Linked DNA regions of Homo sapiens. The protein of the gene in region 1 purifies or fractionates together with the protein of each later gene. This does not show direct contact. Each region holds a gene or a part of one and is shown in the gene's direction. Other genes may lie near its edges.

Region 1 (3,502 bases):
TTGGACTCCTCCTTGCTCTACAGGGTCACTGGTCATCTCAGCCTATGCCGTCTGCCCAGACATCACAGCCACTGTGACCCCAGACCTCAAGCATCCTGAAGGGAGAGGTATGGACATGGCCCCATCCTTTGTGATCTTTGCTTGTGTGATCTTTGTTTGGCTCCTGCTTTGTGAGTGCTGGGCCCCCATCTCAACACTGGGCTGTGGTGTTTTCTGGGACTGATTGTCTAGGTGTCTCACCACATGCTGGGAATAGCAGTGCTGTGAGCCCCTCAGGGATGGGTCCTCCTGAGCTGTTCCCCTCCCCTCACCCCTCCCCGTCTCCCCAGGCCATCTGCTCTATGTGGCTCTGAGCCCTGGGCAGCACCGGCTCGGGGGCACAGCTCTGGCCCAGTGCTTCTCCCAGCTTGGGGAACACCCTCCAGACCTGGACCTTCCTGAGAACTTGGTGCGGGCCTTCAGCATCACTCAGGGGCTGCTGAAAGGTGAGTGAAGACCCCTGGGGAGATAGCGCACAGGGTGCCAGGCGTGCAGCAGGCGTTCACCATCTGAGCAGTGGGGCAAAAGGGACTCCAATGGACGATGTACCCCAGATCCCCTGACATTCTGACACACACTCTTGATGGACTGACTCCGGAAGGTGGGGTGGGGCTGTCAGGTTTGGGTCCCGAGGTTGCTGAGCTTTCTTCTCCTTCCTCCAGACCGCCTCCTCTGCTCAGGCCACGATGTCAGTGACGGAGGCCTCGTCACATGCCTGCTGGAGATGGCCTTTGCTGGAAATTGCGGGCTACAGGTGGATGTGCCTGTCCCCAGGGTTGATGGTAAGGAACCTGGGGTCTAGTCTCAGGCCCGGGCTGCCTTCTCTACCCTGCAGACCCCATTTCCAATATATTAAAGAGTGGAGTGCCCTCCAGTCCCCTTTCCCTGAGTCTTCCCTGACTAGCTTTTCTGTGCTGTCTCTCTGACAGCTGAACTGGATGGAACTGGCTGACACCCACCATGTTCCTGACTGCACCCCTCTGAGACTTCCCATCCCTGAGATGTCCATGATGAAACATCCTCAGTCCTGCCGTCCTAGCCCTCATCCTCCCTGATCCCTACCCTACTCTCTGGCTGCATCCCTCTGACCCTCACCCTGGCCCTTCCTGCATTTCCCTGATCCCGCCCCAACTCCCTTGGCCCTTCTTGCATCCCCCTGACTCCCCACATTGCTCTCCCAGTCCTGTCTGTGCTGTTCGCTGAGGAGCCAGGCCTCGTGCTGGAGGTGCAGGAGCCAGACCTGGCCCAGGTGCTGAAGCGTTACCGGGATGCTGGCCTCCATTGCCTGGAGCTGGGCCACACAGGCGAGGCCGGGCCCCACGCCATGGTGAGGAAGTGAGGGAGAGAGCGGTGTGCAGTGGGCAGTCAGAGTGGGGTGGCCGCGGTCCATCCCTCTCCCACTGTGGAGGGGGCCATCCTTTCTCCTAGCCCGTGGGAGATTTGTTCCTCTTCCTAGGTCCGGGTGTCAGTGAACGGGGCTGTGGTTCTGGAGGAGCCTGTTGGGGAGCTGCGAGCCCTCTGGGAGGAGACGAGTTTCCAGCTGGACCGGCTACAGGCAGAGCCTCGCTGTGTGGCAGAGGAGGAACGGGGCCTGAGGGAGCGGATGGGGCCCAGCTATTGCCTGCCCCCCACCTTTCCCAAAGCCTCCGTGCCCCGTGAGCCTGGTGAGGGAGTGTGTGCAGAGGCTCCGCGTCCTGGGGGCACTGAGCCTGGATGCCTGGGCCTGCCCTCAGAAAGGTGTCTGGGGAGTTGGGGTGGGGAAGTGACTTTCTGGCCCAAAGACACTTATTCTCCCCCAAGGTGGTCCCAGCCCCCGAGTCGCCATCTTGCGAGAGGAGGGCAGTAATGGAGACCGGGAGATGGCCGATGCCTTCCACTTAGCTGGGTTTGAGGTGAGCAGGGTAGGGGGCAGCTGGGGGTGATTGTCCAGCCTCAGCTGCGTGTCCTCCCACCCACACTCCCCCTCCCCACCTTCGCAGGTATGGGACGTGACCATGCAGGACCTCTGCTCTGGGGCAATTGGGCTGGACACTTTCCGTGGCGTGGCCTTCGTGGGCGGCTTCAGCTATGCAGATGTCCTGGGCTCTGCCAAAGGTCAGTGTGCAGGCTTCTGCCCACTCCCTTCCCCCACATTCCTGAAGAGGTGCCTTTAGCCCCATCTTCCTGGGCTGGGGATTGGCCTCTCACTCCACCGAGCTACGAGAGAGTGGGCCCATTCGTTCTGGGCCACATGCCAACAGAAGGCTGGTAGTAAATTTTTAATTTTTTCATTGAAAAAAAGTATATATATACACATATGTAATTAAAATATATATTATTAAATATATATTATTTATATATATTATTTATATATTATTAAAATGTATATTATTTATATATTATTAAAATATATATTATTTATATATATTATTTATATATTATTAAAATATATTATTTATATATATTATTTATATATTATTAAAATATGTATATTTTTAAATATATATATATATATATATGTATTTTTTGAGACGGAGTTTCACCCTTGTTGCCCAGGCTGGAGTGCAATGGCGCAATCTTGGCTCACCGCAACCTCCACCTCCTGGGTTCAAGCGATTTTCCTGCCTCATCCTCCCAAGTAGCTGGGATTACAGGCATGCAAAAATACAAAAATTAGCCAGGCGTGCTGGCGGGCGCCTGTAATCCCAGCTACTTGGGAGGCTGAGGCAGGAGAATCGCTTGAACCCAGGAGGCAGAGGTTGTAGTGAGCCGAGATCATGCCACTGTACTCCAGCCTGGGTGACAGAATGAGATTCCATCTCAAAAAAAAAAAAAAAAGAAAGAAGGAAAGGAAGGAAGGAGGGAGGGAGGGAAAAGGAAGAAAGAAAAAAGAAAAGAAACAGAGCAGTTATGCCCCTTCATTCCCAATTCCCTTTTTTGAGGTCCTCCATGTCTCACCCTGACTTCCCTATTCCCTGCTAGGGTGGGCAGCTGCTGTGACCTTTCATCCCAGGGCTGGGGCTGAGCTGAGGCGCTTCCGGAAGCGGCCAGACACCTTCAGCCTGGGCGTGTGTAATGGCTGTCAACTGCTGGCTCTGCTCGGCTGGGTGGGAGGCGACCCCAATGAGGATGCTGCAGAGATGGGCCCTGACTCCCAGCCAGCCCGGCCAGGCCTTCTGCTACGCCACAACCTGTCTGGGCGCTACGAGTCTCGCTGGGCCAGCGTGCGTGTGGGGCCTGGGCCAGCCCTGATGCTGCGAGGGATGGAGGGCGCCGTGCTGCCCGTGTGGAGTGCGCACGGGGAAGGTCAGGCCCAAGGAAGGCTGGGGGAGGGCCCGAGGGTTGGGGGCAAGGGTGGGCATGAAGGACCTTGGCTCTCACTTCCCTCCTCCTTCCATCCCAGGTTACGTAGCATTTTCTTCTCCGGAACTCCAAGCTCAGATTGAGGCCAGGGGCTTGGCTCCACTGCACTGGGCTGATGATG
Region 2 (4,653 bases), on another chromosome or scaffold:
AAAGGATATTTGATACTTGATTTTCAGAAATGTGTTAGGAAACCTTTTGGAGCCATTAAGATACATATGTAGCCTTAATTCTTTAAATTATAAGACCTTTGGCATACTATCCAGCACTTTGGGAGGCCGAGGTGGGCGGGTCATTTGAGGTCAGGAGTTCGAGACCAGCCTGGCCAACATGATGAAACCCTGTCTGTACTCAAAATACAAAAATTAGCCGGGCATGGTGGTGCACGCCTGTAGTCCCAGCTACTCAAGAAAGTGAGGCAGGAGAATTGCTTGAGTCCGGGAGGCAGAGGTTGCAGTGAGCTGAGATGGTGACAGTGAGACCCTGTCTCAAAAAAAGAAAAAAGAGAAGAGACGAGAACAGAAGAGAAAGAGGGAGGGAGGGAGAGAGAAGGGAGGGAGGGAAGGGGAGGAAGAGAAGGAAGGGGGGAGGAAAGAAAGGAAGAAAGAAAGAAAAAACAGATGTTTAGTAACTTTCTCGAGTAGTACAGTCATTACCATAAATAAGTTTTAGAATATTTTCATCCTACCGTAAGATCTCTCTTGTTCATTTACAGTTAATCCCCATTACCCCCAGCCCAGAGAACCACTAACTTTCTGTCTCTATAAATTTGCCTTTTCTGGATATTTCATATAAATCATACAATGTGTGATCTCTTATGCCTGGCTTATTTCCTTAGTATAACGTTTTTGAGGTTCATCCATGAAGTATTAATTGCATGTATCAGTGGTTCATTGCTTTTTATTGCTGAATAGTATTGCACTGTATGGATATATCACATTTTGCCTATCCATAATACTGCTGTGAACATTCTCCTACAAGTCTTTGTATGGACATTTATTTTCATTTTTCTTGGGTAAATACCCAGGAGTGGAATTGCTGGGTTTATGGTAGTTTTATGTTTAACTTACTACATTTTTTTCACATGTATATCCAGTTGTCCCAGCACCATTTGTTCAACAAACAGTTCTTTCCCTAAAGAAGTGTTGTGGCAGTTTTTTTTTGTTTTTTTTTTTTTTTGCTTGAGATTTGTTAAGCTTCCCTCTCCCTGTGCGTGGCCTAGAAACACTCTGGACAGCGAGTTAGAGCACTCATAGGACTCCCCTCATTTGTTTCCTTTCTCAAGGATCACTGCCCTGCACTGCCTTTTGCTCAGTATCTGAAAACCACTATTGTATTATATGTTGCCTGGTTTCCTGGTTGATGAAGGCAGGAAAATAAATGTGTTCCCCATTATTTCATCATGTCCAGAAGCACAATTAGTCTTGCTTACATTTCAACTTTGAAAATTTACTTCTCTTTTTACTCGTTAATTTCTAAGTTTTCTAAAAACAAAAAATCCTGCTTTTATAACCTGGAAAAATACAAATTATTTTTAATTTAAAAAGAAGCAGAAGGAGCAGCATCCTGGACATAACCATCAGCAGCACAGTATCGTTATTCTTGGAATTCATAAGCATGACATTGTAGATGTGATTTAGGAAACGTTATTTTATAAAATTATTGTAATTTTGAGGGTATTGATTCTATTTAATTATCTCTTTTAAAGAATGCTTGTAAAATGTGTGGTTTTTGGATTTCAGGCGATTGTGGAAAAATGTGACAGACTCGCTGAGAGAATCTGAAATTGATAAGGCCACAGAGCATAAGCATACCCTGGAAGAACGTCAGAGGACTGAAGAAAGGCATCGTACTGAAACAGGCACACCTTGGAAAACCAAATATTTTATTAAAGAGGTATGCTGTACATGTGTTCAAGATAAAAATGTATCTACTTGGCTGAGAACTTTAGCTTACTAGGCTTTGTTGAATTGCTATCACTTATACATCTTTATTTTTAAAAGTAGTATGGCTGTATATAAATACCAACTGTTTTTGAGACCAGCCTGGGTAACCTATAGCAAGACTCTGTCTCAAAAAAAAGGCAGATATACCAAGAACAGATTCTAAGAAAGAAGAGTTTCTAAGTGAGAACATCTATATATCATTAAAAATGAGCTAGGGGGTGGCCGGGCTCGGTGGCTCATGCCTGTAATCCCAGTACTTTGCGAGGCCGAGGCAGGCGGATCACCTGAGGTCAGGAGTTCGAGACCAGCCTGACCAACATGGAGAAACCCAGTCTCTACTAAAAATACAACATTAGCCAGGTGTGGTGGTACATGCCTGTAATCCCAGCTACTCGGGAGGCTGAGACAGGAGAATTGCTTGAACCCAGGAGGCGGAGGTTGCAGTGAGCCAAGATTGCGCCATTGCACTCCAGCCTGGGCAACAAGAGTGAAACTCTGTCTCCAAAAAAAAAAAAAAGAAAAATGAGCTGGGGGGCCTGGCGCGGTGGCTCACGTCTGTAATCCCAGCACTTTGGGAGGCCGAGGCGGGCGGATCATGAGGTCAGGAGTTTCAGACCAGCCTGGCCAACATGGTGAAACCCCCATCTCTACTAAAAATACAAAAATTAGCCGGGTATGGCACGTGCCTGTAATCCCAGCTACTTGGGAGGCTGAGACAGGAGAATTGCTTAAACCAGGGAGGCGGAGGTTGCAGTGAGCCAAGATTGTGCCACTGCACTCCAGCCTGGCTGACAGAGCAAGACTCCGTCTTGGGGGAAAAAAAAAAGGAAAGAAAAAAAATGAGTTCTGGGGTGCCAGTGGAGACAGGGAGAACAGTTAGTACCTTCCCGATCATTTCTCTGTACTCCACCTGCTGCCCATAACTCTGTGAGTGAGGCTCAATCTGTAGCATCTTGGCGAAATTGGCAAAATTGCTACAAATGGTTCTTGCAAAATTAAATGTTCATGGGTCACAAACTAGATCCTCCCATACCATGTCTTCTCACCTAAATCCTAGCTAAACCACAGGCATCGTTTGATGTCTTAATCACAAAGACTTTATTCCTTCACAAAAACTTGTTTTTGAATGTGAAAATAGAATTCCATTTCAGTGAAGGTGTTGCTTCTAGTTTTGGTTACTGATTTTGATAATATTAGAGGGATGATTCTTTATCTTTTTATTTGTTTCAGGGAGATGGCTGGGTTTATCATAAACCACTTTGGAAAATAATTCCAACAACACAACCAGCAGAGTGACACATACTATCTAAAACTCGACCAAATGAGGTTCTTCTCTGTTTACCCTAAATCCTCCCAGAATGGAGTCATTGCACTGAGTGACCTGCTTCCTGATTGCGCAGACTGAAACTAGCTAAACCTGAATGTACCTACTAGGGCACCATAATACTGCAGCAAGACCAAAGTGGTAAAGAAACACAGTGGACCTTTTACCAACCTGTTCATGTGATGTGAGCAATACCATCTTAAAACTTGTTACCTGAATCAGTAGATGAATCTTTTATCCAGTTCTTGCTCCTAAAGTTAAGTTTGAATCCCCTATTTTTGCACAGGGGCAGCAGATACACACAACAATGAGAACTCAGTGACTTTGATTTCTTTGTAGTGAAAAGTGAAGTCTCCGTTTCAGAGTTTGTGTCTTTCTTTCTGTCCATAACTGAAGTATTCACTACTCTTGTAAACCAACCAAGAGGAGGAGAAAGATGACCCAGAAGTGGATTCAGCCATTGTGCCTGAAATCAGTGTTTAAAAAAAAAAATCAACCAGGTTGTGGTAACAAGGCATTCTATTTCTTCAAAAAGACTGTATGCCTGTGTCTGAGGAACTTACCTATTATCCACCTCTGTTGGAACTCTCTTTTAAAAAGTACATTTATAGATTGATCAGAATTATAACCATGGAGAATTTTTTCTTCTGAGCATTTTAATATACTTGAAAACAACATTGACTTGAAAAATTTCAGAACATTTTTCAGTACCTAGTTTTATTAAATATTACACTTGAGAGACACTTTTTAAAAATGTGTTAATGTCAATATGATGAGATTTTAGCCTTTCTCCAGAACTAAGGCATTAAAGAAAATAGCAAATATTAAAAAATAAAACTGTTACTTTTTTCCTTCTTTCTTTTCACCTTTAGGTTAATATCCAGTATTATGTGTTATCCCTTTGGATAAGTATGCTTTATTTTACCTCTGTTAAAAATTAAAATAAATGATTCTATTCATATTTGTCAGTAATTCAAAACTTATATGTGTAACTGAACGCGCATGTAAGGTATGGTTTTATTTATTTTTTTTTTTTTTGAGGAAATTTAAATGCTAAAGAAACAACGAAATGAAAAGGTATCAGGAAAAAAAGATCAGGAAGTTGTATTCAGGTACAAATCTTTTTTTAAATAAGTATTTTGTTGAGGTTGAAGAATTGCTGGCAATTAAAAGAATAGAGCTAATTATGGCTTTCATCATTCATTCATGTATTTATTGAGCACCTACTTATTATGGTGCTCAACACTTGTTACTGCAAGCTACCTTAATTTCCCAAGAGTGGTGCCTTACTCTGTTTTTTCTGATATGGTCTTCCAATCAGTGTGTGTAACATACCTGTTGTTTATCAGCCATTGTAGGTGGCTGTGTCTGTTGCATCATCATAAGAAGTTTAAGCTTTGTGCTCTGATAAATTGTGTTCTGTTAAAGAGGTTAGTAGGATGAAAACAGCAAAACAATAATTTTTTCAACAAATTGTAAATTATAAGAAAAAGAGTTGGTTTGTGTACAACAATTTTAATGATTCCCTTGTTCAT
Region 3 (3,500 bases), on another chromosome or scaffold:
TTTGTTGGCAGTTTTTTTAATTACTGTTTCAGTGTCGCTGCTTGTTATTGATTTGTTCATAGTTTCTGTTTCTTCCTGCTTTAATCTAAGAGGCTTGTATATTTCCAGATTTTCTAGTTCATGCACATACAGGTGTTCATAGTAGCCTTGAATGATCTTTTGTATTTCTGTGGTATTGGTTGCAGTATCTCCCATTTCATTTGTAATTGAGCTTATTTGGATCTTCTCTCTTCTTTTCTTGGTTAATCTCACTAATGGTCTATCGATTTTATCTTTTCAAAGAACCAGGTTTTTGTTTCATTTATCTTTTTTGTATTTTTTGTTTCAATTTCATTTAGTTCTGCTCTTATCTTAGTTATTTCTTTTCTTCTGTTGGGTTTGAGTGTGGTTTGTTCTTGTTTCTCTAGTTCCTTGAAGTGTAACCTCAGATTATCTGTACTCTTTCAGAGTTTTTGGTTTAGGCATTTAAGGCTATGAGCTTTCCTCTTAGCACTGCTTTTGCTGTATCCCAGAGGTTTTGATAGGTTGTATCACTATTATTATTCAGTTCAAATAATTTTTAAATTTCCATCTTGATTTCATTGTTGACCCAGAGATCATTCAGGAGCAGATTATTTAATTTCCATGTATTTGTATAGTTTTGAGGGTTCCTTTTGGAGTTGATTTCCAATTTTATTCCACTGTGATCTGTGAGAGTACTTGATATAATTTAGATTTTTTAAAATTTATTGAGACTTGTTTTGTAGCCTGTCATGTTGGAGAATGTTCCAGGCTGAAGAAAAGAATATATATTCTGTACTTCTTAGGCGGAAAGTTCTATAGATATCTGTTAAGTCCATTTGCTCCAGAGTATAGTTTAATTTCATTGTTTCTTTGTTGACTTTCTGTCTTGATGACCTGTCTAGTGCTGTCAGTGGAGTACTTAAGTCTCCCACTATTATTGTATTGCCATCTATCTCATTTCTTAGGTCTAGTAGTAACAGTTTTATAAATTTGCGAGCTTTAGTATTAGGTGCATATATATTTAGAATTGTGATATTTTCCTGTTGGACTAATCCTTGTATCATTATATAATGTTCCTCTTTGTCTTTTCTAACTTGTTGCTTTAAAGTCTATTTTGTCTCATAGAAGAATAGCTACTCCTGCTTGCTTTTGGTTTCTGTTTGTGTGGAGTATCTTTTCCCACCCCTTTACAGTAAGTTTATGTGAATCCTTATGTGTTAGGTGAGTCTCTTGAAGACAACAGATACATGGTTGGTGGATTTTTATGCATTCTGCCATTGTGTATCTTTTTATTTTTTTGAGACAGAGTTTCACTCTTGTTGCCCAGGCTGGAGTGCAATGGCATGTTCTTGGCTCACTGCAACCTTCACCTCTCAGGTTCAGGCAATTCTCCTGCCTCACCCTCCTGAGTAGCTGGGATTACAGGTGCCCGCCACCATGACTGGCTAATTTTTTTGTGGTTTTAGTAGAGACGGGGTTTCACCATATTGGCCAGGCTGGTCTCAAACTCCTGACCTCAGGTGATCTGCCTGCCTTGGCCGCCCACCAAGCCTGGCCCATTGTGTACCTTTTAAGTAGAGCATTTAGGCAGTTTACATTCAGCGTTAATATTGAGATATGAGGTATTATTTTATTCATCATGGTAGTTGTCTCCTGGATACCTTGTTTTTTTGCACTGTGATATTGTTTCATAGGTCCTGTGAAATTTATGCTTTAAGGAGGTTCTATTTAGGTGTATTGTGAGTTTTGTATCAAGATTTAGAACTCATTTTAGCATTTCTTGTAGGACTGGCTTGGTAGTGGCGAATTCTCTCAGCATTTGTTTGTCTGAAAATGACTGTATCTCTTCCTTATTTATGAAGCTTAGTTTTGCTGGATACAAAATTCTTGGCTGATAATTAATTTGTTTAAGGAGGCTAAAGATAAGACCCCAATCCCTTCTGGCTTGTAGGGCTTCTGCTGAGAAATCTGCTGTTAATTTGATAGGCTTTCTTTTATAGGTTACCTAATGCTTTTGCCTGGCAGCTTTCAAGATTCTTTCCTTTGTCTTACTTTAGATGACCTGATGACTATATGCCTAGGTGGTGATCTTTTTGCAATGAATTTCCTGAGTGTTCTTCAAGCATTTTTATTTGGATGTCTAGATTTCCAGCAATACCAGGAAAGTTTTCCTCAATTATTCCCTCAAGTAAGCTTTCCAAACTTTTTGATTTCTCTCCTCTCCTTCCTCAGGAACATCAGTTATTCTTATGTTTGATTGTTTAACATAATCCCAAATTTCTTGGAGGCTTTGTTCATTTTTTTGATTCTTTTTTTCTTTGTCTTTCTTGGATTAGGTTAATTTGAAAGCCTTGTCTTCGAGCTCTGAAGTTCTTTTTTTCTACTCGTTCTAATCTGTTGTTGAAATTTCCCAGTGTATTTTGCATTTCTAAAATGTGTCTTTCATTTCCAGAAGTTTGATTATCTTTTCTTTATGATATCTGTTTCTCTGGAGTCCTTTTAAATTTTCTTTAAGTTGGTTTTCACCTTTCTCTGGTACCTCCTTGAGTAGCTTAATAATCAACCTTCTGAATTCTTTATCTGGCAATTCAGAGATTTCTTCTTGGTTTGGCTCCGTTACTGGAGAGCTAGTGTGATCTTTGGGAGGTGCTGTAGAACCTCGTTTTGTCGTATTACCAGAATTTGTTTTCTAGTTCCTTCTCATTTGAGTAGACTGTTTCATTGGAAAGATCTGGAACCCAAGGGCTGCTGTTCAGATTCTTTTGTCCAATGGGGTGATCCCTTGATGGGGTGTTCTTCGCCTTCCCCTAAGGATGAGGATTCTTGAGAGCTGGACTGCAGTGGTTATGCCCTTCTGGGGTTAGCCACCCAGTGCGGCTACTGGGCTCCAGGCTGGTATTGGGGAATGTCTGCAGAAAGTCCTGTGATGTGATCTGTCTTTAGGTCCCCGAGCTGTGGATACCAGCACCTGCTTCGGTGGAGGTGGCAGGAGAGTGAAGTGGACTCTGTGGGAGTCCCTGGTTGTATTTTTGTTTAGTGCACTGGTTTTCTTGAATGCTGGTTTATGCTAGCAGTGAAGTTGCCATGTGGACAGACTCAGGATCTCTGGTTAGCCAGGATGTTGCAGGCGGTGGAATTAGCTGTTGTTTTTCCCTTTTTGGAGCAGGGTTGTTCTGTTACGAGTTTCTGTAGTGGCTTGAGTTGGTTGGCCTTCAGCGAGGAGGTGGTGCTTTCAAGAAAGCATCAGCTGTAGTAGTATAGGGGGGATACAAGCTTGTCTATGTAGGCCAGGATAAGTATTTTGGTTTCTTAGGTAATGGGCAGGGCCATAGAGCTCCCAAGAGTTTATGTCTTTTGTCTTTGGCTACCAGGGCAGGTAGAGAAAAACCATCAGGTTAGGGCAGAGTTAGGTGGGTCTGAGTCAGACTTTCCTTGGGCAGGGCTTGCTGTGGCCACTGTGTGGGGTTGGGGAGTGGTTCTCAGGTCAATGGAGTTAT
Region 4 (4,653 bases), on another chromosome or scaffold:
TGGAGTATGAATAATCCCATCACCCAGGGGTTTGGAGTATGAATAATCCCATCACCCAGGTAGTGTGCATGGTACCCAGTGGGTAGTTTTTCAGCCCTTGCCTCCCTCCATTTGTCCCCCTCTAGTAGTCCCCAGTATCTGTTGTTCCCATCTTTATGTCCATATGTACACCCAGTGCTTAGCTTCCGCTTATAAATGAGAACATGTGGTATTTGGATTTCTTGTTTCTATGTTAATTTGCTTAGGATAGTGGCCTCCAGCTCCATCCATGTTGCTGCAAAGGACATGATTTCATTCTTTTTTGTGGGTGCATAGTATTCCATGGTATATATGTGTCACATTTTCTTTATCCAATCCACTATTGATAGGCACCTGGGTTGTTTTCATGTCTTTGTTATTGTGAATAGTGCTGCGATGAAGATCCAAGAGCATGTGCCTTTTTGGTAGCATGATTTATTTTTCTCTGGAAATATACCCAGTAATGGGATGGCTGGGTCAAATGGTAGTTCTGTTTTAAGTTCGTCGAGAAGTCTCCAAATTGCGTTCCACAGTGTCTGAACTAATTTATATTTCCACTAACAGTGTAAAAACATTCTCTTTTCTCCACAGCCTTACAGCATCTGTTTTTTGTTTGTTTGTTTTTACTTTTTAATAATAGCCATTCTGACTGGTGTGAAATGGTGTCTCATTGTGGTTTGATTTGCAGTCTCATCACATTAAGAGGATCATACGTCATGATCAAGTGGGATTTATCCCTGGGATGCAAGAATGGTTGAACATACACAAATCAATAAATGTGATACACCACGTTAACAGAATGAAGAACAAAAATCATACGATCATCTCAGTTGATGCAGAAAAAGCATTTGACAAAATTCAACATACTTTCATTTTTAAAACTCTCAACAAATTTGGTGTAGAATGAATATGCCTAAACATAGTAAAGGTCCTATATGACAAGCCCATAGCTAACATCATACTTAATGGTGAAAATCTGAAAAGTTTATCTCAGATTGAGAAAAAAAACAAGGATGCCCACTCTTGCCACTGCTATTTAAGATAGTACTAGAAGTCCTAGCAGAGCAAATAGACAAGAAAAAGAAATTAAAAAGCATTCAAATTGGAGAGTAAAATGATCTGTTTAAAGATAGCATGGTCTTATACATAGAAAGCCTTAAAGACTCCTTGAAAAAAAAGACAAAAACTATTAGTCCTAATAAATGAATTCAGTAAAGTTTCAGGATACAAAATCAGCATAGAAAAATCAGAAGCATTTCTATACACTAACAGCAAACTTTCTGAGGATGTAATCAAGAAAACAATCCTATTTACAGTAGCTGCAAAAATATAAAATATTTAGGAATAGATTTAACCAAGAAGGTGAAAGATCTCTATGCTGAAAACTGTAAGACATTGATGAAAGAATTTGAAAAATTAACAGATATCCCATATTCATAAATTGGAAGAATTAATATTGTTACAATGTTCATAGTACTGAAAGTGATCTACAGATTCAATGTAATCCCTATCAAAATTCCAGTGAAACTTTTCACAGAAATAGCAAAACAATTCTAAAATTTGTATGGAACCACAAAAGATCTGAATAGCCAGAATAATCTTGAGCAAGAAGAACAAGGCCAGGGGCATCACACTACATGCTTCAAGTCATGTTACAAAGCTGTAGTGATCAAAACAGTATGGTACTGGCATAAAAGCAGACACATAGATCAATGGAACAGAATAGAGAGGCCAGAAATAAACCCAAGAATTTACAGTCAATTGATCTTCAAAAAAAAAAAAAAAAAAAAAAGCCAAGGAAACACAATGGGGACAGGACAATCTCTTCAATAAACACTGTTGTTAAAACTAGATACCCACATACTGAAGAATGACATTGGATCCTTATTCATCCCATATACAAAAATCAGCTCAAAATGGGTCAGAGATTTAAACAAAAGATTTGAATTTGAAAAGCATAAGATGCGCGCAAGAAAATACTGGAGAGAAGCTCCATAAGATTGGTGTTGGCAATGATTTTTTGTTTATGGCACCAAAAGCACAGGCAACAAAAGCAAAAATAAACAAATGGGACTTCATCAAATTAATAAGTTTCTCTGTAGCAAAGGAAACAACAAAATGAAAAGGCAGCTTACATAATGAGGGGAAATATTTGCAAGCCGTATATCCGATTAGGGGTTAACACGTAAAAATAATCAGGAACTCATACAACTCAGTAGCTAAAATAAAATAAAAATACAGGTTGAGGATCCCTAATTCAAAATCTGAAATGCTTCAAAATCTGAAACTTTTTGAATGCTGACATGACACTCAAAGGAAATGCACATTGCAGCATTTGGATTTTTGGTTTCAGATTTTTGGATTAGGGATGTTAAACCAGTTAGTATCATGCATGTATTCCAAAATCTGAATAATTTCAAAATCTGAAACACTTCTGGTCTAAAGCATTTTGCATAAGGGATACTCAATCTGTATTTACCTAGATGTAAATAATAAATGAATATATTAGAATAGGTTATTGTCTCAGTCCATTTTGTGCTGCTATGACAGAATACTGCAGACTGGGTAATATATAAAGAACAGAAATTTATTCTATCAGAGTTCTGGAGTCTGGTAACTACAAGATCAAAGTGCCTGCAGGTTTGGTCTTTGGTTTCAAGATGAGGCCTAGTTGCTGTGTCCTCCAAAGAGGAGAAACCTTGTGCCCTCACACAACAGAAAAGCAAAAGAGAAAATCCACTCTGGTAAGCTCTTTTTATAATGCCATTAATCTATTTATGAGGGCAGAGCCATCATAACCTAAACACCTCCCATTACCTTCCAGTACTGTTGTGTTTAAGTTTCAACATGAGTTTTGGAGGGGACAAAAACATTCAAACCATATAGTTATAAAGACTATTTCAGTTATAAAAGCCTGTGATTCCTTGAAACTGAAGTTTGAAATATACTCCATATCATTGGTATCTTAAATATAACCTCTATATAACTTGTTTTTCTTTAGTGTTCAAATGGTAATGTATACTTGAGGTAGCAACTTAAGGGTTTGAACCAACTTTAGCTTTGTCTGAATAAATGACCTAAAAAAACATTTCTCAAGCTGGCTAAGATATGGATGCTGGATTCAAATTGCAGGTGAAATAATTCTCTCAGTGCTTCTATTTATATAGCTTTTGTAACTAGAAGCATTTCAGGAGTTAAAACCAAGGACTAGGTTAGTGATAAATGGAAGTGGTTAAATTGAGCTCTTAGCTATGATTGGCTGTACAGTTGACCGTTGAATAACATGGATTTGAACAGCGCAGTTCCACTTCCATGTGGATTTTTTTTTTTCAATAAAAGCTATACCAAGTGAGTTGCCTCTCCTGCCTCCCCTTTTACCTCCTCCACCTCTGCCACACCTGAGACAGCTAGATGAACCCCTCCTCTTCTCAGCCTACTCAAGAGTGACTATAATAAGGATGAAGACCTTTATGATGACCCACTTCCCATGTAATGAACAGTAAATACATTTTCTCTTCCTTCCATTTTCTTTTCTCTAGCTTACCTTATTGTAACAATATGGTATTTGATGCATATGGTATATGATGCATATAACATACATAATATGTGTTAATTGACTGTTTATGTTATTGGTAAGGCTTCTGGTCAGCATTAGGCTATTAAGGTTTTAGGGAGTTAAAAGTTATGTGTGGATTTTTGACTGAGTGAGAGGGGGATTGGTACCCCTAGTGCCTGCATTGTTCAAGGGTCAACAGTACTTGTTAATTCCAAAGTCCTTTTTGTTCACAAAATGACTTTAGGTACTTATTGGTACTGAAATATATTTATTAATATCTGGGCTACATCTTTGTATTTAGCAGATTAGTAGACATCTCTACTAATTAAACTCATTGAGTTCAAAATAAAACTCATTTTATAATTTTTAATAATGATAATTAGAGGGGTGCTGGTAAATGTTTAACTAAACGCCTTTCTCCAAAATAGCCCTGATTTGTGATGGCTGTCAATTTCCTGTGGTGTAAATACTCCCCCCATGGCTCATTTCAAGCCGCTAAAATAGTGTCACTGAATGCAGAGTTGAGAAGAGATAAGAGGTAGCACATCATTATATACCATATCCACCATACAGACATAATCTCATTAGCACATATAATAGTAAAATGTAAAGTAAGTAGTGATGGTTTTGAGTGTTAATTCTTCTGTTTTAGTATAACTCATTTATGTATATATAATTATGTTTTAATAACTGCCTCATAAAAATCCTGAAAATTTAATAATTATATCTCATGGGGTAGTATAGGGGGCTGTATACCATTGAGTTCATAATTACCATTTATTAAGAATGATTGATGTGAGTTATGCTACACTTTACATATTTTTAAAACTGAATTTTAATCCTTTCAACAATTCTATGAAGTAGGTGACACTGTCTCCATTTTACTAAATCAAAGAATTAAATAATTTATCCAAGGGGACAACTAACACTCCAACATCCTGATTTAGAGCAATGGTTTTCAAACTTCAGCTTGCATAGAATCACTTGAAGAGCTTGTTTTTAAAAAATACTGGGCCCACCTTCAGAAGTTCTGGTTCAATAGATGTGGGGTGGGCTGAGAATTTGCATTGTCAAGACCT
Region 5 (4,653 bases), on another chromosome or scaffold:
TTATGTTATTCCTACTATTTAAAAAATTCTAAATTTTTTTTTCTTTTTTTTTGAGATGGAGTCTTGCCCTGTCACCCAGACACGATCTCAGCTCACTGCAACCTCTGCCTTCTGGGTTCAAGCTGTTCTCCTGCCTCAGCCTACTGAGTAGCTGGGACTACAGGTGTGCACCACCATGCCCGGCTAATTTTTTTGTATTTTTAGTGGAGACAGGGTTTCACAGTGTTGGCCAGGCTGGTCTTGAACTCCTGACCTCAAGTGATCTGCCTGCCTTAGCCTTCCACAGTGCTGGGATTACAGGCTGAGTCACTGTGCCTGGCCAAAAATTCTAAATTTTTAGTTAAGTTAATATTTTAAGTTTCTCTGGCTGCAATGCAACATAGGAGACACAGTGCTCTGTTTTATTTTTTAATAAATTTGTTTAATTGGACAAGTTTTAGCAGTTGAAAAATATGCTCTATGTATATTTTAGAGTGATTATGAGAATGAAATAAGGTAATGTAGTGAAAGTACTTTGCAAACTAAGTGCTGGTCAAATGTAGTTATATATGTGTATTTAACTATTAAAGTGCGATAAGACAAACACTGAAGAAATGTAATTGCAAAGGTCAACTTATTAAGTACATTATTACTCATCTAGAAGACGTTACTTGTCTTTAAACTTGCTTTTTACCCTTGATATAATTTTCCATTAGCTGTAATATACAAATAACGTAAAAATAACTTAAGGGTGTTTTTATTTAACATTTAAATGTTTATTTTGATAACGTGATTATAGCAATCATATATTTGTAAAATTGGTAAATTATATAATTATATATTTGTACTCTTATATACTTAAATCCCTTATATTTGTAAGAATCATTTTTGTTTATTACTTTGTTTGCTTTTGCTTTTTTTGAGCCAGAGTCTCTCTCTGTCGCCGGGGCTGGAGTGCAGTGGCATGATCTCGGCTCACTGCAACCTCCACCTTCTGGGTTAAAGCAATTCACCTGCTTCAGCTTCCCCAGAAGCTGAGATTATAGGCATATGTGCCACCATGCCCATCTAACTTTTGTATTTTTAGTACAGGCGGGGTTTCACCATGTTGGCCAGGCTGGTCTCGAGCTCCTGACCTGAGGTGATCTGCCCTCCTGAGCCTCCCAAGGTGCTGGGATTACAGGTGTGAGCTGCTGCATCTGGCCTGTAAGAATCATTTTTGGATAGCCAATATGAAATTGTATTTAATTTTTCCAGAATAGCAACATTTTGGGAATATTTTATTCTAAATAAGTTCTAAAAAGCTTGAGGGATAATTTTCTTTGGAGAATGTAAAAATATTTTTCCTGAAGATGGATACTTATAAGGCCAGAAGATTTTTGCCTCAAATTATAGCATATATGCTTTGAAAAAGCATAATTTTAAGTGACAGCTCTGACTCAACTTAAATTTATTATAATGTTTATGGAATGATCATAGAAAGCAGTGTTATAATCACAGCTGACTTCAAAAAGGGTTTTTTTTTTCTTTTTTTTTTTGTAGTTTTCACCATTTCATGCTTCTGTGCTGGCCTCTTGCTCGTATGATTTTACTGTAAGGTACAGTGGTTTTTAATACATTTCATTGTGAAATACCAGGTAACATTTGCATCTTTGCAACTTTTATAAGAGATAATATGATTACTCTTACTAACATGAAAATAATCTGAGATGGGTACATTTAAATATTTACTAGGATTAATATTATATTTTTCCTGTTTTCGTGATCCAGTCACATATATGAGTAAATTTTTTCTCTTCAAATATTAGCCTGGCTATTCTGTTTAAAAGCCATCTTTTCTAATAGATGTTCCTATGGTAACACTTTCCTACACTATAGATGGCATAGCCAATATATTCTAAATTTAGATATAGAAATTTGGAAATTGCATTTCTTCAGGTCTAATTATATGAGTCGTAAGGCTAAGATTGCTTAGATGAAAAAACAATGAACATGAGTGTATGATTTTTTGTGAATGTAGATATATGAACATGTATGTGTATATATGTGCATGGATATCTAGATAAGAGTGTGTGTGGGTGTGGGTCTCTATTTATACTTCCAGTTACAGTTCCATACCACAGAGGATTTATTTTCCCTTTCCAAATTTGTAACTCTTGACTTCCATTTTATTCACAATATATTTTCTTATGTGTTAAACCCTGTAATGCTTAGAAAGTAGTTCAGAATTGCAAAGCCATACCTTTGAAAAAAACAATCTTACTAATTAGAGCTCAGCACTTGCTTAGAGTTTTTTTTGTCTTTAGTTTGAATACTATATTCAGAAGTTACTTAGGTTAATTCTCCTCTTCTCTGTTAGAGTGTGGTTATGTTATTCACTTGAAACATGGTTTGATTCCTTTGTTTCTGTTTGTATTCAATTTTAGGGTTTTCCTCCCATCCTTGTTGATTTTGTCTAGGCAAAACATTGACATGGTTTCAAAAGTCAAGATGTACATAAAGATATATTCAGAAAGGTTTCCAGGATTTTCACTAAAATATATCCTGGAAATCATTCTGTATCAAAGAGATCATTCTCATTCTGCATAATACACCATTGTGTGGATGTGCTATAGTTTATTTGGCTACCCTCCTATCTATGGACATTTAGCTTGTTTTCAATGTTTTGTAAATAAACAGTGCCACAGTGAATGATAGCTTTGTGTTACTAGAGAATTAATGTCTGGTATTCCTAGAAGTGGGATTGCTGAGTTAAAAGGTAAACATATGTAGTTTTGTTAGATATTACCAAATTCCCATCCATAAGGAATATGCCAATTTTGATACTCAGTAGCAATGTTTGAGAGTACCTGTTTCTCTGCCTTCTAAAGATCATTGATTCATTAAGGTTTTCCAGATGTATGATCTTATCACCTGCAAATAAAGGTGGTTCTACACCTTCATTTCCAATTCTGATGCCTCTAATTGATTTTTCTTAAAATTCCCTCCACAAATACCACTAATACAGTGCTAAATAGTTTATAGAGAATGTCTGATTCCTGATATGAGTACAAACGCCTTTAGTGTTTCTCTATTAAAAATAAGATTCTGACTTTAATGCAAATTATATATGTTTACTTGTTTGTCATACTAAGAAAGTATGCATGAATTCCTATTTTCTTGAGTTTTTTTAATTAGGAATGGGTCTTAAGTTTTGTTGAAGGCTTTTTTTCCCAGCATTTATGGAGATAATCATGATTTTTCTTCTTAGAGATATGGCTATGATGTATTATATTAATGGATTGAACCAACCTTGCATTCCTGGAGTAAGTCTCTCACGTTCTTTGTGTATCATTTTCTCACCATGGTGTTGAATTGTGTTTGCTAATATTTTATTTAAAGCTTTTGCGTCAATATTCAAAGGTGATATTAGTTGCAGTTTTCTTTCTTTTCTCGTTTTGTTTAATGTGTCTGTGTTTTACTTGCTTCATAAAAAGAATTAAGAAATTTTCCTTTGTTTCCAAAGCTCTGGAACAACTTGTACAGCATTGAGGCTATTTGGTCTTTGAATCCTTTGTAGGATTGCTCTGCAAAACTAGTGGAGCATGGTGCTTTTTGTGGAGTACTTTCTTGATAACTTCATTTCTTTCATGGAAGTGAGTCTGTTTAAACTTTGTATCTCTAACGGGATCAAGTTTGGAAATTGTCCCTTGCTTTTAGGTTTTCAAATTTATTCGTAGAGGTGTCTGTAAAGTGGGTGGACACAGTGGCTCATGCCTGTATTCCCAGCACTTTGGGAGGCCAAGGTGGGCAGATCACCTGAGGTTAAGGGTTCAAGACCAGCCTGGCCAACATGGTGAAACCCTGTCTCTACTAAAAATAGAAAAATTAGCCACGCATGATGGCAGGTGCCTGTAATCCCAGCTACTTGGGAGGCTGAGGTGGAATTGCTTGAACCCAGAAGGCAGAGATTGCAGTGAGCTAAAATCATACCACTGCACTCCAGCCTGGGTGACAGAGTGAGACTTTGCCTCAAAAAAAAAAAAAAAAAAAAGTCTATAAAGGAATGTTGTAGGATTTCTTCTCTTTCATTGGTTGTTTTACTCTTGTTATTTCTGATTTTGTATCTTTAATAAGTTCTTTGAATATCTAGTGGTATGTTTATTTTGTTATTTTTCTTCAGCAGGCAGAATTTTAATTTATCAATTAGAACTACTTTTTTCAGCTGGGTGCAGTAGCTCATGCGTGTAATCCCAGCACTTTGGGAGGCTGAGGCGGGTGGATCACCTGAGGTCAGGAGTTCAAGACCAGCCTGACCAACATGGTGAAACCCCGTCTCTACTAAAAATACAAAATTAGCTGGGCGTGGTGGCACATGCCTGTAATCCCTGCTACTGGGGAGGCTGAGGCAGGAGAATTGCTTGAACCCAGGTGGCAGAAGTTGCAGTGAGCCGAGATCGTGCCATTGCACTCCAGCCTGGGCAACAAGAGCAAAACTCTGTCTCAAAAAAGAAAAAAAAAGAACTTTTTTTTTTTATTAATCACTGCTTTTATTTTTATTATTTCCTTTTTGGTACTTTCTTTTTGTTGTTCTTTTTTTCAGCTTCTTGAGATAGGAATTTATTTTTATTCTTTCATTTTGTTAAAGTATTTAAGGCTATAAATTTTTTTCTGGTTATTATTCAAACTATAGCC
Region 6 (4,653 bases), on another chromosome or scaffold:
CCTGGGTTCAAGCGATTCTTCTACCTCAGCCTCCCGAGTAGCTGGGATTACAGGCTTGTGCCACCACGCCTGGGTAATTTTTGTATTTTTAGTAGAGACGGGGTTTCGCCATGTTGGCCAGGATGGTCTCAAACTCCTGACCTCAAGTAATCCACCTACCTCGGCCTCCCAAAATGCTGGGACTATAGGCATGAGCCACGGTGCCCAGCCTCCTTTCCATTCAGTTTCTTAACAGTACCTCTTGATAAGCAGATGTGGCTTTTTGATGAAATGCAATTTATCTTTTTTTTCTTTTAAGATTCTTTTTATTATTTCAAATATGTGCCAGTCCCTAGGTAACGAAGATCTGTTTCCTTCTGGATGGCATGCTGTGGTGTTAGTATTTGTTATGTCAAATTAGTTTTTGTGTATGGAGTGAGGCAGTGATCAGTAAGATGCATTTCAAGTAAGATGAAGTTACAGCCAGAATACAATAACTCCCTAGAAGTTGGTGGAACCACCTTCCAATTTTTATTTTATTTTATTATTTTATTTTATTTTATTTTATTTTATTTTTTTGAGACAGAGTCTCGCTCTGTCACCCAGGCCACAATGCAGTGGCACTATCTTGGCTTACTGCAGCCTCCACCTCCTGGGTTCAAGAGATTCTTGTGCCTCAGCCTCCCAAGTAGCTGGGAGTATAGGAACCCACCACCATGCCCAGCTAATTCTTTTGTATTTGTATTAGAGACGGGGTTTCACCATTTTGGCCAGGCTGGTCTCGAACTCCTGACCTGAGGTGATCTGCCTGTCTCAGCCTCCCAAAATGCTGGGATTAAAGGCGGGAGCCACCGCGCCTGGCCACCACCCACTAATTCTGACTGCAGCAGAACGACGGTGGTTAAGCAAGACCCTGGAATCCTTTCCCCTGCCTTCCTTCAGGACCATCTTGCCCTGACTTAAGCTGACTGCAGCCCTTTGCTTTATTTGAATGTTTTACTGAAAGTTATATTCTCTTCTATTTTAGTAATAAGCAGATTAAAAGGCATAATTAGTTTGTCTGCTCTGATATGTCAGCTAAAAGCAAATATTTTTGTTTTTAGTAATCAGACTTTGAGTTTGCTCTGTCTAGGGAAGGGCTTGACTCTAGCAGTGTTGAAAGCCTGGGAGGTGGGCTTTTTGGAAACTGTAACTGATATAACATAAAATGTATTTGGTCTTTAAGCTAAAACTTTTGGGAATTCCTGAGTAACAGGTGTCTTTTTATTCATAATGACCCTCTTTGATAACGTGTTTATGCTAATAAGATAGCTTGGAGTGGGGTCCATAGATAGTCTAAAAACTGGGGGGGAAGGAGCTGAAGATCATGCTCTGTAAGATTCGTTTTTCTTTTTTTTAATATTTAAAGAGATGGGGTCTCTATGTTGCCCAGGCGGGTCTTGAACTGGCTAATTTTTATATTTTTAGTACAGACCGAGTTTTGCCATGTTGGCCAGGCTGGTCTCGAACTCCTAACTTCAGGTGATCCACCCGTCTCGGCCTCCCAAAGTGCTGGGATTACAGGTGTAAGCCACCGCACCCAGCCTTATTTTGTATTTTTGTAGAGATGGAGTCTGGCAAACATATAATTACCAATTTATTGCTCTTCTGTTTGAAAGAAGTGTTTTGACTGCAGTAAAGTTCTAGCCTATTGTGAAAATCAGGCTAGCCCATTTCTCAGATGGCTGCCTGGCTAGACACCCTCTCTGAGATGGCTGGAATGATTAGTAGAAAGGAGTGGGCAGGAAGTAGGTGGAGAGTGGGGATTCTAGATCAGGGGTCCTATGGCCTGTTAAGAACGGGCCATTACAGCAGGAGGTGAGTGGCGGGCAAGCAAGCATTACCACCTGAGCTCCGTCTCCCGTCAGATCAGTGGCGGCATTAGATTCTCCTGGAAGTGCAAATCCTACTGTGAACTGTGCATGCAAGGGATCTAGGTTACGAGCTCCTTGTGAGAATCTAATGCCTGATGATCTGAGATGGAACAGTTTCATCCCAAAACCATTCCCCCTAACTCCTCCCCCATTTTTTCATGGAAAAATTGTCTTCCATGAAACGGGTTCCTGGTGCCAGGAAGGTTGGGTACCACTATTGTAGATAATTTCCTTCCAAATTACTGGCATCTGGGTTAATTCTGGCAGTATTGTCAGTACAACATGGACGAGGACTTGATAAAGTGATTTCTTTCCACCCACCCAATATCTTGTTCTTCTCCAGGCAGTCAGTTGTGGGAAACTTATCAGGTTTGAGGGAGTTACTTGCTTTCATCAGGTCACCTTGTCCCCTACCTCAGGGAGCCCCACAGCTCTGAGTGCTTTGGCTGTGGGAGAATTCCATCCTCTGGGTGTGCAAGTGGGTGTGTATGGGTGGAGGAATCTGACCAAATAAGGCTTTACCTTAGCTAGAAAATCACCCTGGCTTCAGGAAACCCACCAGTGCATGCCAGCTTTGCAGTTCTTTTGTTGTTGTTGTTTTTGGGACAGAGTCTCGCTCTGTCACCCAGGCTGGAGTGCATTTGCTCAATCTTGGCATTTGCAACCTCCACTTCCCAGGTACAAGTGATTCTCGTGCCTCAGTCTGCCAAGTAGCTGGAATTACAGGTGCCCGCCACCATGCCTGGCTAATTTTTGCATTTTTTAGTTTGAGACGGGGTTTCACCAATGTTGGCCAGGCTGATCTTGAACTCCTGACCTCAAGTCATCCACCCGCCTCAGCCTCCCAAAGTGCTGGGATTACAGGCATGAGGCACAGTGCCCGGCCTCAGTTTCTGCAGTTCTTGCTTTTTAACAGTTGTTTACCCTACAAAAATGGAAAATATACTTGGAAATATTTGTGGACATAGGGCTTTTAAGTATATGCACTTAGAGATAGATACAGACAACCTATGGATTAGGAAATAGGACACTATCCATGTCTGAAATTTAAATAAGGTCCAAATTAGCTTAGATCCAATATGATTCCCCAATGCATATATGAACAATACGTGAACATTGTTGTGTGCACAACTATGGAAAGGTCTTAATCCGCACAGTGACTCTGAGATAAGACTCACTGAAGGAAATACAGCAGCAAACCCAGGAGATGTGAGTTCCAATCTTCATTTGTAACTCACTCCAAATGAGATCCTAGCAATGAAGTAATTTTTTTTTGTTTCCCACTAAAAACAAATAAACAAAAACCTTAGTTTTTCTATGCTACAGAATTAGGATGACAAATGAACTTATCTTGCAGTCACTATAAGAACACTGACAGTTTCAGAGATAGTATTAAAAATCAACTAAACACTTATAATTATTGTGAAAGCATTTATCTATCAAAGAAGGTTAGCCTGCAGCCAGTTGGAAAGTTTTTTTTGTTGTTTTTTTGGTTTGTTTGTTTGTTTGTTTGTTTGTTTGTTTGATAGAGACAGGGTCTCACTATGTTGCCAGGCTCTCCTGGGCTCAAGCAATCCTCCCGCCTCAGCCTCCCAAAATGCTGGGATTACAGGCATGAGCCACCGTGTCCGGCTGCCAGGTGGAAAGAACAATTTAAGGAGATGGTTAAAAGTGGAAAAGCCAATAACATGGTAATAATTGAAATAAAAGAAGAAAGAAAAAATTGAACTCTGATACAAAGAGACTACAACTGTGTAATAGGTTGCATAAAAAGAAATTTTGCAAACATGTAATAGGTTGCAAGGCAGATAAAAACAAAAATCATGAGAAGCCACTCCTGCCAAATTCATTCATAGTCAAAATACAAGTTAACTTTTGTGGGAGATTAAAAAAAAGAAAACTAAGAGCATTTTAAAATGAAGTAGGATTAGGTATGCTAGCAAGAGAGTTTTTTTCAAAAGGCTGTGGCACCCCACGTACCCCAAAGAAGGGGAGCCAGCAGTAAACAATGTGGCCTTATGTGGAATACATGGCAATGGGCTCCAAATACAGATTCAGGCTGGGCGCGGTGGCTCACATGTGTAATCCTGGCACTTTGGGAGGCCAAGGCAAGTGGATCACCTGAGGTCAGGAGTTCAACACCAGCCTGGCCAACATGGTGAAATCCCGTCTCTACTAAAAATACAAAAAACTAGCCAGGCATGGTGGCAGGCACCTGTAATCTCAACTACTTGGGAGGCTGAAGCAGGAGAATTGCTTGAACCTGGGAGGCAGAGGTTGTAGTGAGCTGAAATTGCACCACTGGACTCCAGCCTGGGCAATAGAGTGAGACTCTGTCTCAAAAAAAATAGAGATTGAGAGAAGCTGGAGGCCAAACAGTAGAGAACTGAAGCATCCCTTGGTGGGACAGCTGTGGCTTTTTTCATAATATGAAAAATAATTATTTCCATTATTTTTTAAATTTGTTTTTTTTTATTATATTTTATTTTATTGTATATTTTTTGAGAACAGGGTCTTGCTCCGTTGCCCGGCTGGAGTGCAGTGGCACCATCTCAGCTCATTGCAACCTCCGCCTTCAGGTCTTCAGTGATCCTCCCACCTCAGCCTCCCAGGTAGCTGGGATTACAGGTGCGCATCACCATGCCTGGCTAACTTTGTATTTTTGTAGAGACAGGGTTTCACCGTGTCGCTCAGGCTAGTCTCGAACACCTGAGCTCAAGCGATCCACCTGACTTGGCCTCCCACAGTGGTAGTATTACAG
Region 7 (4,653 bases), on another chromosome or scaffold:
GTGGAGCAGGGCCCCTGAAGAGCGCAAGCACACAAGGCACCCACACCATAGCAGTTGCCCTCCTGGAAGCCCTGTGGTGGCTTCCTAACTGCCTGGCTCTGGGTGAGGGCGTTTGACCTGGTGGCATGGCCCCCATTCTGTAATGGTTTGTAGAAATGGACCCATCCATGGTTGCAGTGCCTGATTGCTTCGAAGAGCATGTGTTTTTTTTTTTTTTTTTTCGTGACATGGAGTCTTGCTGTCACCCAGGCTGGAGTTTGGTGGCGCAATCTTGGCTCACTGCAACCTCCGTCTCCTGGATTCAAGTGATTCTCCTGCCTTAGCCTCCTGAGTAGCTGGGATTCCAGGTGCCTGCCACCACATCCAGCTAATTTTTGTTTTTTCTTTTTTTTGAGATGGAGTCTTGCTCTTTCACCAGGCTGGAGTACAGTGGCGCAATCTTGGCTCACTGCAATCTCCACCTGCGAGGTTCAAGCAATTCCCCTGCCTCAGCCTCCCGAGTAGCTGGGACTACAGGCGCGCACCACCACATCCAGCTAATTTTTTGTATTTTAGTAGAAACGGGGTCTCACCATGTTGGCCAGGATGGTCTCAATCTCCTGACCTCGTGATCCACCCACCTCAACCTCCCAAAGTGCTAGGATTACAGGCATGAGCCACCGCGCCTGGCCTGTATTTTTAGTAGAGACGGGGTTTCACCATGTTTGCCAGGCTGGTCTCGAACTCCTGACCTCAGGTGATCCACCCTCCTCAGCCTCCCAAAGTGCTGGGGTTACAGGCATGAGCCACCACGCCCAGACTATTAGTTTTTACCATGTTTTATTGAAATATATGTCATGGGCCGGCCACGGTGGCTCACGCCTGTAATGCCAGCACTTTGGGAGGCCACGGCAGGTGGATCACAAGGTCAGGAGTTTGAGGCCAGCCTGGCCAACATGGCGAAACCCCATCTCTAGTAAAAATACAAAAATTAGCCGGGCGTGGTGGCAGGTGCCTGGAGTCCCAGCTACTCAGGAGGCTGAGGCAGGAGAATGGCTTGAACCCAGGAGGTGGAGATTTCAGTGAGCCAAGATCACGCCACTGCACTCCAGCCTGGCCGACAGAGTGAGACTCCGTCTCAAAAAAAAAAAGAAATACATGTCATGAAGAACACAGATGGTGCAGGTCTAGCTTGTTGATGACTTTTCACAAACTCAGCACAGCCACAGAAACTGCTCCTAGATCAAGAAACAGAATATGCTCTGCACCCAGGAAGCCCCCTCACCTGGGGCTCTCACAGTCACTGGCCCTCAAAGGGTCATTTCTGACCCACTCCCCACCCTCCGCTCCATTGTTGGTTTTCTCGCCGTCTTTTGTTGGTGCGCAAATCTTAACTGTACAATTGGCTGTACACCCTCATCACAATAAAGGCCATCGTCATCTCCCCAGAAAGTTCCTGGGTACCCATTCCCAGCCAATCTGCCCTGCTCCAGGCAACCGCTGATCTGATTTCTGTCACAATGGGTTGCATCTCTGATGCTGAGATTTCCCAGTGTTGCTGAGTAGTATCCGTTGTATGAATGCACAGTTTGCCGGGTCACATGTTAATTCAAGTGTTTGACTTGTTTCCAGTTTGGGGCCGCTATGAACCAAGGCTGCTGTGACCATTCGTGTGCAGGTCTTTGTGTGGACTTGCACTTTCATTTCTCTTGGGGTGGAACGGCCAGGTCACAGGATAGGTGTGTGTTTCACTTGATCAGAGGGAGCACCCGCACCACCTCACAGCTCAACTTCAGCCATTTTCATTTTCTTGCCTTACTGCACTTTTCTTGTTCCTGATTGCTTAAAGGGATGATTAATATTTCAGCATTTCCTATAAGTGTGATATTTGTAGTATTTGTAAGGATGATGGTTTGGGGGTTTTTTTGTTCTTTGTTTTTTGGTGGTGGTTTTTTTTTTTGAGACGACGTCTAGCTCTGTTGCTCAGGCTACAGTGGTGTGATCTCGGCTCACTCCAGTCTCTCCCTCCTGGTTCAAGCGATTCTCCTGCCTCAGTCTCCTGAATAGCTGGGATTACAGGCATACACCACCATGTTCAGCTAAGTTTTGTATTTTTAGTAGAAATGGGGTTTCACCATGTTGGTCAGGCTGGTCTCAAACTCCTGACCTCAAGCGATTCCCCGCCTCGGCCTCCCAAAGTGCTGGGATTACAGGCTTGAGCCACCACGCCCAGCCAGAATGGTGTTTTATAGATGCCCTTTATCAAGTTAGTGAAGTTCCCTTGCATTCCCCCTCTGCTAAGAGTTTTAGCGTGAATAGGTGATTTCTGAAACACTTGATCTACATCTGTTGGGTTGAGCAAGATTGCTAGATTTAAAAAATCAAAACATAGCAGTAGGCAGAGAGTTCTTAGAGGTTTTTTTTAATCTCTTAATATGGTGAATTTCAATGATTTTTTTCTGTTAATATCAAACCAACTTTTTATTTACAGATGTATTTATTCTGTAAATAAAAAACCTACCGTTTTTAACATTGCAGGATTTGGTTTGCTGATGTTTTCTTCTTTTTTTTTAAAGAGACAGGGTCAGTGGGTCGTCGTGGCTCACGCCTGTAATCCCAACACTTTGGGAGGCTGAGGCGGGCAGATCACTTGAGCCCAGGAGTTCAAGAGCAGCCTGGACAACATGGGGAAACCCTGTCTCTACAAAAAATACAAAAAATTAGCTGGGTGTGTTGGCATGTACCTGTAGTCCCAGCTACTCCAGAGGCTGAGGTGGGAGGATTGCTTGAGCCCAGAGGCAGAGGTTGCAGTGAACTGAGATCGTGCCACTGCACTCCAGCCTAGGTGACAGAGTGAGACCATGTCTTTAAAAAAAAAAAAAAAAAAAAACCTCCTGATTTCAAGCAATCTTCCTCCCACCTTGGTCTCCCAAAGTGCTGGGGTGTGTGAGTTGTGCCCGGCCTGCTGATATTTCGTGTGGGATTTCTGCATCTGCATGTGTGTGTGAATGAGGCGTATGGGTTTTCCCATGTGCCTTTCTCATCAGGTTTCCGTACCAAGGCTCTGTAGGCCCCATAAGGTGGCTTGGGAAGTGTTCCCCTTTCTTCCTTCTGCAGGAAGAGTTTGCTTCAGGCTGGAATTCTCTTGTGCTTGCATTTTGGTAGAACCCACTGGCAACACTCTCTATGCCAGGGGGTTGTTTCTGTAGGAAGATTTGTGGCCACTGTCCCCTCTCAGGTCCATTGCTCTGTTTTTTGTTTGTTTGAGACGGAGTTTCGCTTTTGTAGCCCAGGCTGGAGTGCAGTGGCTTGATCTTGGCTCACTGCAACCTCCGCCTCCCAGGTTCAAGCGATTCTCCTGCCTCAGCCTCCTGAGTAGCTGGGATTACAGGCATGGGCCACCATGCCCAGCCAATTTTGTATTTTTAGTAGAAACGGTTTCTCCATGTTGGTCAGGCTGGTCTTGAACTCCCGAACTCAGGTAATCCATCCGCCTCGGCCTTCCAAAGTGCTGGGATTATAGGCTTGAGCCACCGCGTCCAGCTGTTTAGTTGTTTTTTTGTTTTTTGTTTTTTGAGACGGAGTTTCACTCTTGTCGCCCAGGCTGGGGTGCAATGGTGCAATCTTGGCTCACTGCAACCTCCATCTCCCGGGTTCAAGTGATTCTCCTACCTCAGCCTTCCGAGTAGCTGGGACTACAGACACCCGCCACCACGCCTGGCTAATTTTTTGTATTTTTGGTAGAGGCGGGGTTTCACCGTGTCAGCCAGGATGGTCTCGATCTCCTGACCTCTTGATCCGCCTGCCTCGGCCTCTCAAAGTGCTGGGATTACAGGAGTAAGCCACTGTGCCCGGCCTATGCCCTTTTAAAAAAGCAACCATGCCAGGGGGTTGTCTGTTTCTATTCGTCTTTTTCAAACACCAATTTCCAGCTTTGTTCATCTTTTCTTTGGGTTAGCTTTTAATTTTATTAATTTTACTTGTCATTATTTCCTATTTTCTTCCTGGTAATTTGGCTTGCAGTTCTATCTTTTTCTCACTTTTTTTTTGGAGATGAAGTCTCACTCTTGTCACCCAGGCTGGAGTGCAGTGGCACGATCTCGGCTCACTGCAACCTCTGCCTCCCGGATTCAAGTGATTCTCCTGCCTCAGCCTCCTGAGTAACTGGGATTACAGGTGCCTGCCACCACACCTGGCTAATTTTTGTATTTTTAATAGAGATGGGGTTTTGCCACATTGGCTGGTCTTGAACTCCTGACTTCAGGTGATCTGCCTGCCTCAGCCTCCCAAAGTGCTGGGATTACAGGTGTGAGCCACCGCATCTGGCCCTTTTTCTCACTTCTTAAGTGGAATGCTTAGCTCCTTATTTTTGAACCACTCTTTTTTGCTAATGTAAGCACTTGAGGTCACGTCTCACAAATGTGGCTACATGGTACTTCTGTCGTCCCTTGGTTCTACTGAATTGAATTTTCAGGTTTTCTCCTGGAACGCAGGAGATGCGTTTATGTCTTCTGGGTCAGGGATGGAGGGCTGGCACAGGCTTGAATCTCGGGGCTCTTCTGTCTGTATATCAGGCAAGACAGACATGCTTGTGGCCCAGTAGTGATCCTGAGTAGTGCCCAGATCACCAAGGGTGGAGGATGATGTATGTAGGTCGTGTCCCCAGCCACTTCT

The links.
Region 2: the proteins of PFAS (region 1) and OSBPL11 purify together in Homo sapiens (co-immunoprecipitation; one large-scale study listed by IntAct). This does not show direct contact.
Region 3: the proteins of PFAS (region 1) and RPIA fractionate together in Homo sapiens (co-fractionation; one large-scale study listed by BioGRID). This does not show direct contact.
Region 4: the proteins of PFAS (region 1) and RAP1GDS1 fractionate together in Homo sapiens (co-fractionation; one large-scale study listed by BioGRID). This does not show direct contact.
Region 5: the proteins of PFAS (region 1) and PEX7 purify together in Homo sapiens (co-immunoprecipitation; one large-scale study listed by IntAct). This does not show direct contact.
Region 6: the proteins of PFAS (region 1) and SLC19A3 fractionate together in Homo sapiens (co-fractionation; one large-scale study listed by BioGRID). This does not show direct contact.
Region 7: the proteins of PFAS (region 1) and G6PD fractionate together in Homo sapiens (co-fractionation; one large-scale study listed by BioGRID). This does not show direct contact.

The regions. Positions count from the first base shown.
Region 1 is NC_000017.11:8,265,533-8,269,034, forward strand, and holds part of PFAS (phosphoribosylformylglycinamidine synthase), read left to right. Parts: intron 1-23; coding exon 24-107; intron 108-329; coding exon 330-485; intron 486-701; coding exon 702-821; intron 822-968; coding exon of another isoform or gene 969-991; exon of another isoform or gene 992-1,220; coding exon 1,221-1,366; coding exon of another isoform or gene 1,367-1,378; exon of another isoform or gene 1,379-1,495; coding exon 1,496-1,703; intron 1,704-1,839; coding exon 1,840-1,931; intron 1,932-2,018; coding exon 2,019-2,133; intron 2,134-3,000; coding exon 3,001-3,324; intron 3,325-3,421; coding exon 3,422-3,502. UniProt on the Homo sapiens protein: Phosphoribosylformylglycinamidine synthase involved in the purines biosynthetic pathway. Catalyzes the ATP-dependent conversion of formylglycinamide ribonucleotide (FGAR) and glutamine to yield formylglycinamidine ribonucleotide (FGAM) and glutamate.
Region 2 is NC_000003.12:125,528,952-125,533,604, reverse strand, and holds part of OSBPL11 (oxysterol-binding protein-related protein 11), read left to right. Parts: intron 1-1,590; coding exon 1,591-1,744; intron 1,745-3,024; coding exon 3,025-3,090; 3' UTR 3,091-4,653. UniProt on the Homo sapiens protein: Plays a role in regulating ADIPOQ and FABP4 levels in differentiating adipocytes and is also involved in regulation of adipocyte triglyceride storage. Weakly binds 25-hydroxycholesterol. Interacts with OSBPL9 to function as lipid transfer proteins.
Region 3 is NC_000002.12:88,743,673-88,747,172, forward strand, and holds part of RPIA (ribose-5-phosphate isomerase), read left to right. Parts: intron 1-3,500. UniProt on the Homo sapiens protein: Catalyzes the reversible conversion of ribose-5-phosphate to ribulose 5-phosphate and participates in the first step of the non-oxidative branch of the pentose phosphate pathway.
Region 4 is NC_000004.12:98,267,386-98,272,038, forward strand, and holds part of RAP1GDS1 (rap1 GTPase-GDP dissociation stimulator 1), read left to right. Parts: intron 1-4,653. UniProt on the Homo sapiens protein: Acts as a GEF (guanine nucleotide exchange factor) for the Rho family of small GTP-binding proteins (G proteins) that stimulates the dissociation of GDP to enable subsequent binding of GTP.
Region 5 is NC_000006.12:136,870,677-136,875,329, forward strand, and holds part of PEX7 (peroxisomal biogenesis factor 7), read left to right. Parts: intron 1-1,521; coding exon 1,522-1,577; intron 1,578-4,653. UniProt on the Homo sapiens protein: Receptor required for the peroxisomal import of proteins containing a C-terminal PTS2-type peroxisomal targeting signal. Specifically binds to cargo proteins containing a PTS2 peroxisomal targeting signal in the cytosol.
Region 6 is NC_000002.12:227,707,325-227,711,977, reverse strand, and holds part of SLC19A3 (thiamine transporter 2), read left to right. Parts: intron 1-4,653. UniProt on the Homo sapiens protein: Mediates high affinity thiamine uptake, probably via a proton anti-port mechanism. Has no folate transport activity. Mediates H(+)-dependent pyridoxine transport.
Region 7 is NC_000023.11:154,536,207-154,540,859, reverse strand, and holds part of G6PD (glucose-6-phosphate 1-dehydrogenase), read left to right. Parts: intron 1-4,653. UniProt on the Homo sapiens protein: Catalyzes the rate-limiting step of the oxidative pentose-phosphate pathway, which represents a route for the dissimilation of carbohydrates besides glycolysis.